Regions from separate parts of the Homo sapiens genome. Here all the other regions are linked to region 1. Evidence: fine-mapped expression QTL. A gene starts in region 1. Each other region holds a variant in brackets. All regions are shown on one strand. Distances are from middle to middle. Region 1 holds the start of ITGB7 (integrin subunit beta 7). Region 2 has its middle 34 kb from the start of ZNF740. Region 3 overlaps CSAD (cysteine sulfinic acid decarboxylase).

Evidence for each region. PIP is the estimated chance that this variant, and not a neighbour inherited with it, causes the effect. A credible set is the group of variants that fine-mapping cannot tell apart.
Region 2: its variant is the best candidate, but not a certain one, in a credible set for the expression of ITGB7 in whole blood (TOPMed, PIP 0.76).
Region 3: its variant is the best candidate, but not a certain one, in a credible set for the expression of ITGB7 in whole blood (INTERVAL, PIP 0.62).

The regions. Positions count from the first base shown.
Region 1 is chr12:53,205,457-53,209,456 of GRCh38, forward strand. ITGB7 (integrin subunit beta 7) reads right to left here and starts at 1,795. Exons shown (of 16, transcript NM_000889.3): 1 at 1,746-1,795.
Region 2 is chr12:53,144,960-53,149,135 of GRCh38, forward strand. No RefSeq gene overlaps it. Among named protein-coding and RNA genes, the nearest start is that of ZNF740, 34 kb to the right of the region's middle. The variant C/T (reference allele first, on the strand shown) is at 2,308.
Region 3 is chr12:53,170,842-53,175,194 of GRCh38, forward strand. It overlaps CSAD (cysteine sulfinic acid decarboxylase), which reads right to left. Exons shown (of 17, transcript NM_001244705.2): 3 at 2,887-2,929; 4 at 2,504-2,635; 5 at 1,681-1,807; 6 at 1,505-1,595; 7 at 1,041-1,147; 8 at 485-600. The coding sequence starts at 2,629. Among named protein-coding and RNA genes, the nearest start is that of ZNF740, 7.7 kb to the right of the region's middle. RefSeq lists enhancers at 672-1,171, 4,038-4,353. The variant C/T (reference allele first, on the strand shown) is at 1,866.

The DNA.
Region 1 (4,000 bases):
GTGATTACAGGCGTGAGCCATCACCCCCAGCCAAATGTCATGTATTTATCATTTCACACGTCTGCAACTGAATCTGTAGGATAAATCCCTAGCAGAGGACGTGCAGGATAACTAGATAGGTATCATTTGTAATACTGGTGTGTATTTCATCTACATTCTCATGCTAAGAAATATATATATATAGGTGGGTATTGCCAACATAAACTCTTCAGGACTTGTACTGGTCCACATTCCCATCAGCAATGTATGAGAAAGGCCAACTAACTCCTTGTCATAAACCATTTGCATCTTCTTCAGCCTGGGCCCAGAGTCAGGTCCAGATACTCTGCACAGAGTGTGGGAAAGGGGTGGGGTGTTGAGTCCTTGAATGTCCTGGTCCTGCTCCCCACCACCTGTGACCTCAGGCGCCATATATAACGGAGCCTCCACCCCTCGGGGAGAGGCCAGTCCCAGCTCAGCCTCAGCGTAACCTCAGCCCTGCTTGCTCTGCATGCCTGTGGTCAGGGAGGCTGGAGATGCTGCAACCCAAAGCCGGGTTTTGACTCATCTCTCACAAGTGGAGCCCCGGCTGCCGCATAGGTTTTTCAGAGACCTTAGGCCCACTCATCTCCCCTTAAAGGGGGCCCTGGGACTTCCTGGACAGCCCTTTCCTACCTTTCTTTCCAATTATCCTCTCTTCTCCCCTCCTTGAGAATACATGTTCTGCCACCTATTTCTCTGTCTGCTTCTCTGTCTCTCTCTGGCTCCTTTCATTTCAAAACTTCTATTGCATCTCTCTGCTGCTTTTCTCTGCTCCACTTCTTCATAGGGCTATTTTACTTCCTTTTCCCCTCTGTTCCTAACTATAGAATGGCTGAATCTACTACTCCATCCCACTCTTTTTACAAATGGAAACCTAAATTCCATGAGGCCAGGGTCACCCAGTGAACTAGGGGCAGGGCAGGACAGGGCAGGGCCAGGCCTCTGCTGTGCTTTCTCCTTTCCTCCCTCCAACCCAGGCACTATCTCCATCAAAAGTTGTGTTCTCTCCCCACTAGCCCTGGTGGGCTCTGCCTAATCCCATTTCTCTTTCCTTAGGGGTATTCTGCAGTCTTCCCTTCTCTCTCTGGGACCAAGTGGTTATTTCCATTTTTCTGGACTCCATTCTGACTCCAGTACACACCCTGTGACCCCCCTCAGCAGCTGAGAAACAGAGCCTCTTCCAAACCCATCCCTACCTTCCAAATCAAGCAGAACCCTCTGCTGCCCACTGGGAGTCACAAGGAGGGGACGGAACTGAGCTGCTGGGCCTCAGTGTCCCAGGACAGTGGAGTCTGTGACCAAGGTGCCGATTAGGAAGAAGTCTGAGCTGAAGGCAGAGCATTAGGGATAGCAGCTGGGGGTGATGTTGGAAGAACCCTCCCTCAGTATAATCGGTATACCTGCCCTACTTCGGTATAGTCCTTGGCACATGGCAGGCACTCAGATGACAGCACTCATATACATCCCTGCCTCCAGACCCACTCATGGGAAACTGATGCAGGAGAGATTGGGCTTTTGGAGAGGTGGAGGTGGGGGTACTGTGAAACTGGAGGAGGGAACCAGGTCAGGGGATCTTAGGAATGCAGAAAGGAGTTCAGAGCCTTTCTCAAGTCTGGACAGGACCCTCGGTATCCAGGTCAGAGCCCTCTTCCCAAGAGGTTGGGACCAGGTGGGCCAGAGCTTGTAAGGAGAGGAGGCAGAAGGGCTGGTGCCCTGGTACTCACAGGTGCGTGCAGAGCAGTCCTTCCTCTGGCGGCAGCAGCAGCCTTTGTGTACTGATCTGGGAGACGGCAGAGGAGGAAGTGACACTCCCCAGGGTGGGGAAGATTTGGGGTTGGTGGGGGTGACTGATCTAGAAGGTGGTGCAGATAGGGGTGGGGCTGAGCCAAGGGAGTGGACAATACAGAGATCTGGAAGAAAGAAGCCCATTTATTGAACCCCTGTCATGTGTTGAACGTAACATATTACAATTAACCCTCACAACAATCTCATAAGATAGGGGTTAATATTCCCCCAAGCCCCAATTTTACAGATGCAGAGATTGAGGCTTGGAAGCAGGAAATAAAGAATTTTGCCCAAGGTCCCACAGCTAGTAAGTAGCTAGTCTAGGATTTAAAAAAAAAAAAGAAAAAAGATTTTTATTTTAAATTTTTATTATTTTATTTTTTTTATTTTAATTTAATTTAACTTTTGAGACAGGGTCTTGCTCTGTTTCCCAGGCACAATCTCAGCTCACTGTCCCATGGCACAATCTCAGCTCACTGCAAACTCCGCCTCCCAGGTTCAAGCGATTCTCCTGCCTCAGCCTCCCGAATAGCTGGGATTACAGGGGTGCACTACCATGCCCAGCAACGTTTTATATTCTTAATAGAGACGGGGTTTCACCATGTTGGCCAGGCTGGTCTCAAACTCTTGACCTCAATTGATCTGCCCACCTCGGCCTCCCAAAGTGCTGGGATTACAGGTGTGGGCCACCATGCCCAGCCTGTTTTTTATTTTTGAGACAGGGTCTTGCTGTGTTGCCCAGGCTGGTCTGTAACTCCTGGACTCAAGCAATCCTCCCACTTTGGCCTCCTGAGTAGCTGGGATTACAGGCACACTCGGCTGGTCTGGGATTTAAATCCAGGTCTGCCTGCCTCCAAAATTCATGATCTCTCCATTTACTTATATAGGAAGGAACATGATAGGAGGGAATAGGGGCAGTAAGTACTGTAGAGAGGCCAGAAATTACAGACTTGTTCATTTTGAAAACCCAGGATACATTATATAAGTGTGCTTGACTACATAGGCTCTGGAGCCAAGTTGCTAGAGTTCAAATCCTGGCTCTACTACTTACTAGTAGTAAGGAGCTTAGCTGAGTTACTTAAACCTGCCTGCAGCTGTTTTCTCATCTGTCCAGCAAGACTCACAGGATTGTCGTGAGAATTAAAAGAGATAATTCATATCAATTGCCTACAAGACTACCTGGCACATACTAAGTAAGGGCTTGATAAGAGAATTAGTAGGGATGAGAAGTAGCAGAGGTGAGAAGTGAAGAGGCTTTGAGAAATTCAAGGTCCACACAACTGGAAACTTGGAAGAGAGAGGCATAGGGCCAGGCTCAGAGCATGTGATTGGGGAACCAGGAGCCAACACAGTAGTGGATCCTGGGAAAGGGGTGGAGGAGGTGAACTGGGAGAAGCAGAGAGTGCAGGAACAACAGCTGAAGCCAAGGCAAGGATGAAGCCCGTAGGGAGAGCAGGAAAATATTAATGGGATTTGCTCCTGGCCCATACAGATCACTAAGAGCTTTGAGAGGGAACTAGACATGAGGTCTGTGTTCACAGGTCGATCTCCCCTACCAGAAGGAGCACTCCTTGTAGGCAGGGACTGGCTCTACAAGGCTTCCCTGCTGGAGCCACCACACCTAGCCAAGTGCCCATCTTATAGTAGGTGCTCAATAAATGTCAGATGGATTGCAGAGGTGTAGCTGCTAGGAGGGGACAATTGGAGAGGAGGGGCTCTTTCTCTGGGTGGGCTTGGCTGGCCTCAGGCTATGGGATAGCCAGGACCTATACCCTTCCCCCACAACCAGGGGTTACCACGGCAATGACCCTCCTTCCCCACAGGCCCTGTGGTTTCCTCTAGAGCTTCTTTCACTTTCTTCTTCTGCTTTCCGCCCTCCACTCTTCTCTCCCCTACTCCCACATCCTCAACTTTTTTGTCATAACCACAGGTCACCAATGAAGAGAGCCAGGAACAAGGTAGGCAAGGCACTGTCCCAGGGAAGGTAGGACACGGAGGAGGGGCTTGAGGGGAGTCACAGAGGGCGAAGGGAAGAGTACAGGGTGCAGCAGTAGAGGCCAAAGGCACTGCAAAGGCGTGTTGCAGAGGGAAGGCGTGTGGGAGCAAGGACAGATATTCGGAAAGAAGGTAACAGTGCAGGTGGCAGTGAGTGGAGGTCATGGGGTGAAGAGTGGGAACAGAGAGGGTGGGGGGA
Region 2 (4,176 bases), 60 kb before region 1:
ATATCAAAATTTATGAGATAAAATGTATGGGATAAAACTGAAGTTGGGCCAGGAGTGGTGGCTCACACCTGTAATCCCAGCACTTTGGGAGGCCTAGGCAGGCGGATCACTTGAACCCAGGGGTTCGAGACCAGCCTGGCCAACATGGTAAAACCCCATTTCTACTAAAAATGTAAAAAAAAAAAAATTCTTTTTAAAGAAGAAGAAAAAGCCTGAAGCAGTACTTAGAAATTTATAGCACTGAATGCCTATAGTAGAAAAGAAGAAAAATCTATAACCAATGTCCTCAGCTTCCACCTTAACAAACTAGAAAAGAGGAGATTATACTCAAAATAAGCAGAATAAAGGAAATAATAGATTAAAGCAGAAATCAATTAAGTAGATAACAATAAAGACACCCAGTGAAACCAAGGTTGGTTCTTTGAGAAGATCAGTTGCAATTGTATTAGTCAGGATTCTCCAGGGAAACAGAACCATTAGGATATATGTAAATATGTAAGAGATTTATCACGGGAATTGGCTTGCACAATTATGGAGGTCAAGAATTCCCATGATATGCCATCTGTAAGCTGGAGAATCAGGAAAGCTAGGGGTGTTACTCAATCAGAGTCCAAGGGCATGAGAACTAGGGCAGCCAGTGGCAGAGCTCCCAGTCTGAGGCCAAAGGCCTGAGAACCAGGGCAGGAAATGGTGTCATCCCAGAGTCCAAAGGCCTGAGAACCAGGACCTCCAGTGTCCTCAGGTGAGTGTCAAGGGCATAAGATTGATGTCCCAGCTCAAGAAGACAGAGAATGTGCCCTTTCCTCACCTTTTTGTTCTATTGAGCCCTCAGTGATTGGATGATGCCTGCACATTGATGAGGACAGATCTTCTTTCCTCAGTACAGCAATTCAAATGCAAGCTCTTCTAGAGACAGCCTCACAGACACACCCAGAAATAATGTCTACCAGCTCTCTAACCTAGGCCAGTTGACATACAACATCAACCGTCACAGGCCAGACATTAGGGCTCATGTCCCTAATCCCAGCACTTTGGGAAGCTGAGGCAGGAGGTTCATTTGAGCCCAGCCTGGCCAACATAGCAAAACACCATCCCAGGCCAGGCGAGGTGGCTCACGCCTGTAATCCCAGCACTTTGGGGGACTGGGGTGGGCAGATCACTTGAAATCAGAAGTTCCAGACCAACCTGGCCAATACAGTGAAACCCCGTCTCTACTAAAACAAAATACAAAAATTAGCCAGGAGTGGTGGCATGCACCTGTAGTCCCAGCCACTTGGGAGGCAGAGGCTGGGGAATTGCTTGAACCCAGGAGGTGGAGGTTGCAGTGAGTCGAGATCATGCCACTGCACTCCAGCCTGGGCAACAGAGCAAGACTCCATCTCAAAAAACAACAACAAAAAAAGAACACATCATCCCTACCAAAAAAAAAAATCAACCATCACAGCAATAAACCTCTCACTAAAATGAACAGGAAGAAAAAAAAGGGAGAAAACACAAATAATTAATATCAGAAATGAAAAAAGTGACAATATAGGTTCTACAGAACTGAAAGGATAATAAGAAAATAAGTTTATGTCAATAAGTGCTGAAACGTAGATGAAATAGACAAATTTCTGGACAGGTTTGGTGGCTCATGCCTGTAATCTCAGCTCTTGGGAGAGTGAAGCGGGAGGATCGCTTAAAGCCAGAAGTTTGAGACCAGTGTGGGCAACAAAGTAAGACCCCATTTCTACAAGAAAAAAAAAATAGCCAGGCTTGAAGCATGCTCCTGTAGTCTCAGTTACTCAGGGAGCTGAGATGGAAGAATTGCCTGAGCCCAGGAGTTTGAGACCAGCCTGGGAGATAGAGTGAGACCCCATCTCAAAAAAAAAAGGAAAGAAAAGAGACTGTTTTTTTTTAACTGCTTCTTGTGGAACAGGGCTACCTCATAGGCAGTGTCCCCAAGACAAATTTCTTTCTTTCTTTTTTTGAAACAGGATCTCACTCTGTCACCTAGGCTGGAGTGCAGTGGCACGATCTCAGCTCACTGCAACCTCTGTTTCCTGGGCTCAAGTAATTCTCCAGCCTCAGCCTCCCATGTGCTGGGATTACAGGCATAAGCCACCAAAGCCTGGCTAGTTATATATACATACACATATATATAGGGGTGTGTGCATATATATATATACACACACACATACACACACATATGTGTATATATACATATACACACCTACACACATATATATGTGTATATATACATATACACACACATATATGTGTATATATACATATACATACATATGTGTATACACATGTATATGTGCA[C/T]ATATGTATACGTATATGCACATATACATACATATATGTATACATATATACACATATATGTGCATGTATGTATACGTATGTGCACATATGTACATGTGTATGCATAAATACATATATGTACATGTGTATACATAAATACACATATATGTACATGCGTGTACATAAATACACATATATGTACATGCGTATACATAAATACACATATATGTACATGTGTATACATATATACACATATATGTACATGCGTATACATATATACACATATGTACATGTGTGTACATAAATACACATATGTACATATGTGTACATAAATACACATATGTACATGTATACATATATACACATGTATGTACATGTATATATATACACATGTATGTATACGTATATACACACATATATGTATATGTATATATACACACATATATGCATATGTATATACACACACATATGTGTATATGTATATATGTATATATACACGTATATATGTATATATACGTATATATGTATACATACACGTATACATGTATATATGTATGTATATATGTGTGTATATATGCATGTATACGTGTGTATGTATATATGTGTATGTATATATACGTATATAGACGTATTATACACATATACGTATATATATACGTGTATATACACGCTTATATACACGCGTATATACACGCGTATATATACACGTATATGTGTGTGTGTGTGTGTGTGTGTGTGTGTGTGTATTTTTTTTTTTGGTAGAGATGACGTTTTACCATGTTGCCCAGGCTGGTCTCAAACTCCTGAGCTCAAAGCAATCCACCCACCTCAGCCTCCCAAAGTTCTGGGATTACAGGCGTGAGCCACCATGCCCGGCTGCCAAAACAAATTTCTTAACAGACAAAAACTACCAAAGTTTACCTAAGAAGAAACAGTCCTGAATAGCCATTATCTTTATTTTTTTTTTTTTTTATTATTTTTCTTTGAGACAGAGTCTTGCCTTTCGCCCAGGCTGGAGTGCAATGGTGCTGTCTCACCTCACCGCAACCTCCGTCTCCCGGGTTCAAGCAATTCTCCTGCCTCAGCCTCCATGGGCCATAATTCTATGAAACTTGTAATGCTAATGCTAAATCAAGGGTTGTGAAAACACTGCCATCTTTATACAAAACCCAACCTCCAGCCGGGTGTGGTGGCTCACACCTGAAATCTCAGCACTTTGGGAGGCCGAGGCGGGCGGATCATCTGAGGTCGGGAGTTCCAGACCAGCCTGACCAACATGGAGAAACCCTGTCTCTACTAAAAATACAAAATTAGCCGGGCATGGTGGCACATGCCTGTAATCCCAGCTACTCAGGAAGGCTGAGGCAGGAGAATCACTTGAACCCGGGAGCTGGAGGTTGCTGTGAGCCTAGGCCACTGCACTCCAGCCTGGGCAACAAGAGCGAAACTCGGTCTCAAAAAACAAACAAACAAACAAAAACCCAACCTCCAAGTTCCTCCACTTAACATTTAAAAACTCTAGAAAGGAGGGTGGGTCGGCTGGGTGCAGTGGCTCATGCCTGTAATCCCAGCACTTTGGGAGGCCGAGGCGGGCAGATCAAGAGGTCAGGAGATTGGGACCATCAGTTGGTCCCAATTGGTCAGATTGGGCTAACACGGTGAAACCCCGTTTCTACTAAAAATGCAAAAAGTTAGCCGGGCAGGGTGGCACCTGCCTGTAGTCCCAGCTACTCGGGAGGCTGAGGCAAGAGAATCGCCTGAACCCAGGAGGCGGAAGTTGTAGTGAGCCGAGATCGCGCCACTGCATTCCAGCCTCAGCGACAGAGCGAGACTCCATCTCAAAAAAAAAAAAAGAAAGGAGGGTGGGTCAATCAGGCACCACAACTCTGT
Region 3 (4,353 bases), 34 kb before region 1:
TCCTAAGCAGCTGGGACTACAGGTGCCCACCACCATGCCTGGCTAATTTTTTGTATTTTAGTAAAGAGGGGGTTTCACTATGTTTCCCAGGGTGGTATCAAACTCCTGAGCTCAGGCAATCCACCCACCTCAGCCTCTCAAAGTGCTGGGATTACAGGCGTGAGTCACCGTGCCCGGCCAGATTCTGCATTTCTAACAAGCCCCAGGTCATACCAATGCTGCTGGTCCACAGACCACACTCTTGAGTAGGAAGAGTATGGACTGTGTCCACTGCACTCACGGCCCCTCCTCTGCCCCCAAACAGAAGGCAATGTGAACAGGAGCAGTTACTTGACCTCCTTGATTGGAAGGAAGCACATCCGCCTGGGGGCAGGCTGGCCTTGGAGGATGTAGGGAGGGCAGGGAGAAGACCTGGAAGGTCTCTACTTAGCTGGCTGGAGATTAGAATCAGGAGCCCAGGGTTGGGCCTGTGCCTCTTCCCCACCTCCTTCGATGTGAATAGGGCCAGGGGCGGCAGTGTGCGGAGGCCCCTCTGCTTGCAATCCGGGTAGCGCTGATAGCGGGCCAGATTTACAGCATACATGTTGGAGATGGAGCCACCTGTCACAGGGAGGGGGCGGTGGCAAGAGGAAGGAGCAGTGGGTCAAGACTGGAGCTTGCCTCCCTTCCCTTTCTACCAGAAGAGCTCATCAAAGAAGCAGGTATGACTGGCTCCCAGGCCACAATTCTCAGGATCATACCATCCCAGAATGGATCCAGGATCAGCAGATCCTCTTGACCACACCTCTCCACATCTGGGGCTGCCCCCAAGAGACAGCCCCCGTCCGGAGATAGCAGGAACTAGACCACTGACCCCAGGGAATGGTGACAAACATGAGCATGAAGGGACCAGGCAGCCGCCTCCCTGGCCTGGCCTGGGTCCAGCTGGAGAGGAATCAAAGAGGAATCATCCCTCCCTGCCAGACACTAGAGCAAGAGAACGGTGGGGGAGGAGGAACTCATAAAAAGGGCAAAGAAAGGTCCTCCTCCTTCTCACAAACCAGGGCAGAAGATTCCGTCCCCAGAGCTCCAGCCCACCAGGGCCCGCAGTTTCCTCAGCACCTCCTCTTCCATGAGCACAAACACGGGGGCGATTTCATATGTGTACCTGCCAGGAGAGAGAACGACGAGAAAGGAGAGATGGGGAGGGACTGCCCAGACAGGCCCTTAAACTGCACAGGAGTCACAAAAAGGAGGCAGTGAAGAGTGAGCAAAGCAACAGTCCAAGGAGAAGAACGAGTTGGTGACAGAACCAGGGAAGCAAGAAAGAGAAAACAGGGGTCAGGAGGCCTGAGAAAGTTTGGAGAAAGTGGGTCCAAAGGATATGAGGAAAAACTCTCTGCCGACAGGGATTCCCAGAAGCAGTAGAGAGAGGGCAGAACCATTCTCCTCCCCTACCCCTCAGGCACCTCTCTAGCAAACCTAAATCCTTTGTGGGATGGTAGAGGGGCCTTGGGATGCTCACTGGCTGGTGTTGAGGCTCTCAGTGATAATGCGCCCGGCCAGAGCATGGGGATCCAACCCAGAGAAGAGCTGGTTGAAGAACCGAGGGTGACCTGGAGAAGGAGAGTAAGCCAGGGAGCTCAGAGTAGAGCTCAGGGCAAACTCCCAAGTCTCCTCCTCACAGAAGCCAGGGCCCACCAGTCTTGACACTGTAGCGAATCACAGCCCGACACCGCTCCAGGATCTGCTTCTGTGACTCGCCCTGGCTCCGCAGCTCCAAATCCAGCAGCTGCTTCAGCTCCTCAGGCTCCTTCCACTCACAGACCTAGGAAGAGAGCCGGGGATGCTGGGGGCCTGGGATGCCTGTGGACTGGCTGTCAAAC[C/T]ACACCTCCACAGACACGAGACACGGCCAACCTGCACTAAAAACAACTTCGGGATATTTCCAAAGCAAAACTCTGAAAATGAACAAGAGTAGTGAACACAGTAAGACCCAGAATGTAAATCCCTGAGGTACCCAGGGGGGCAGGGATGAATTCTGGGGAGAAATCTTATCAAAGGAGGAAAGTTCTGAGCCAGATTTGGAAAGAGAAAGAGAAGGCTTGGGCCAGGCGTGGTAGCTCACGCCTGTAACCTCAGCACTTTGGGAGGCCGAGGCAGGCAGATTACCTGAGGTCAGGAGTTCGAGAGCAGCCTGGCTAACATGGTGAAACCCCGTCTCTACTAAAAATACAAAAATTAGCCGGGCGTGGTGGCACATGCCTGTAATCCCAGCTACTCGGGAGGCTGAGGCAGGAGAGCTGCTTGAGCCCGGGAGACGGAGGTTGCAGTGAGCCAAGATTGTGCCACTGCACTCCAGCCTGGCCGATAGAGCGAGACTCTGTCAAGAAAGAAAGGAAGAAAGGAAAAAAGGAAGGAAGAAAGAAGGAAGGAAGGGGGGGGGAGAAAGAAAAGAAAGGAAAAAAGAAAAGAGAAAAGAAAAGAAAGAAAGCTTGATGGGAAGGAGGAGGAAGAAAGGACTCACCTTCTGGGAGACACTGGTTCCTTTCTGAATGGCCTCATCCACAACAACCCCAAACACGGCCCGGAGCAAGGCTTCCACAGCCACTGGGTCCCCAGCAAGGGAGGGGAGTGCTTCTGAGTCAGCCATCAGGATCTGTGGCAGAGCAGAGTCATTCCCTACTCAGCCTGTCAACCCTTCCCGGACCTACCCAGCAGGAGCCTCCTCTCCCAAACGGGCCTGAGGCCCAAACCCTGCAGCTCAGTCTCGGCCTCCAGTGCACAGACAAGGGCAAGTGAGAGTGCCCAGGGAGAAAACCAGTGGGAACAGGTGGGAGAGAAAAGGCAGTCAGTGCTGAGCAAGTGGACTCTAGTGGCCATTTCCACCTAAGGCAGAGACAAGCTTACCTCTCTGCTCAGGAGAGCCGGAGGCAGGGTGCACAGGTAGCTCCTCAGGACAGCAGGACCAAGATGGCAGAGGAAGTGGGGTGAAAAGTGTACAATTAAGTGTTTTTTTCATAAATTCACAAAGTTGTTGCAACCATCATCACTATCTAACGCCAGAACATTTTCATCACCCAAAAAAAAACCTCAGTAGCAGTCATTTCCCATTCTCCCCTTCCCCGACCCCTGGCAACTACTAATCTACTTTGTTTCTGTAGATTTGTCTAGTCTGGCCATTTCATGTAAAACGGGTCATACAGGCCAGGCGCAGTGGGTCACGCCTGTAATCCCAGCACTTTGGGAGGCCGAGGCGGGCGGATCACGAGGTCAGGAGATCGAGACCATCCTGGCTAACACGGTGAAACCCCGTCTCTACTAAAAATACAAAAAATTAGCCGGGTGTGGTGGCGGGCCCCTGTAGTCCCAGCTAGCTACTCTGGAGGCTGAGGCAGGAGAATGGCGTGAACCCGGGAGGCAGAGCTTGCAGTGAGCAGAGATCGCGCCACTGCACCCCAGCCTAGGCGACAGAGCGAGACTCCATCTCAAAAAAAAAAAAAAGAAAAAAAGAAAATACTGAAAAAGAAGGAAAAAGACTTCAAAATATTCATTTGTGGCTATTTCTGGGTGTTGTTATGGATGATTTTTAAGTTTATTATTTATACACATCTATATTTTTATAACTTTATACAATCATTTCACATTGCTTATGGAATTAAAATAACGGTTCTTTTTAAACAATATAAAAATTGTCCGCGTGTGGTGGCTCACACCTGTAATCCCAGCACTTTGGGATGCTGAGGTGGGTGGATCACCTGAGGTCAGGGGTTTGAGACCAGCCTGGCCAACATGGCGAAACCTCATTTCTACTAAAAAATACACAATTAGCCGGGCGTGGTGGCGGGTGCCTGTAATCCCAGCTACTCAGGAGGCTGAGGCAGGATCCACCTGAACCTGTGAGGCGGAGGTTGCACTGAGCCAAGATGGTACCACTGCACTCCAGCCTGGGCGACAGAGTGGGACTCCATTTCAAAAATATATATATATATGGAGGAATTAAGGGGGTACAAGAATTCTAAAATATACAAATCATCAGGCTCAAGGAATGTCCCTTGCACATCATGTGGTTTCCCAACTCCTCAATCCACTGTTATCAAAGGTCTAATGGAAGGCAAAGGGAGCCACACACTGCTCATCTCTATTACGCAACCCCTCAACCCCCGCTGGCTCTCAGGGAAGGGAATGGGTTCAGTTTGTTCAGCAAACATTGACTGAGTGTTGTCTACTTCTGAGCGCCTGGCTGGCATTACCCTAGGTGCTGCATCTGCCCTGTGGGCTCCAGCTAACAGGCTGGCAAGAGAGACCTGCATGTAAAATAAAGGGAAATTGCCACAAGAGGGAGTTGAGAGGTCACCATGGAAAGGCAGGAAAGTT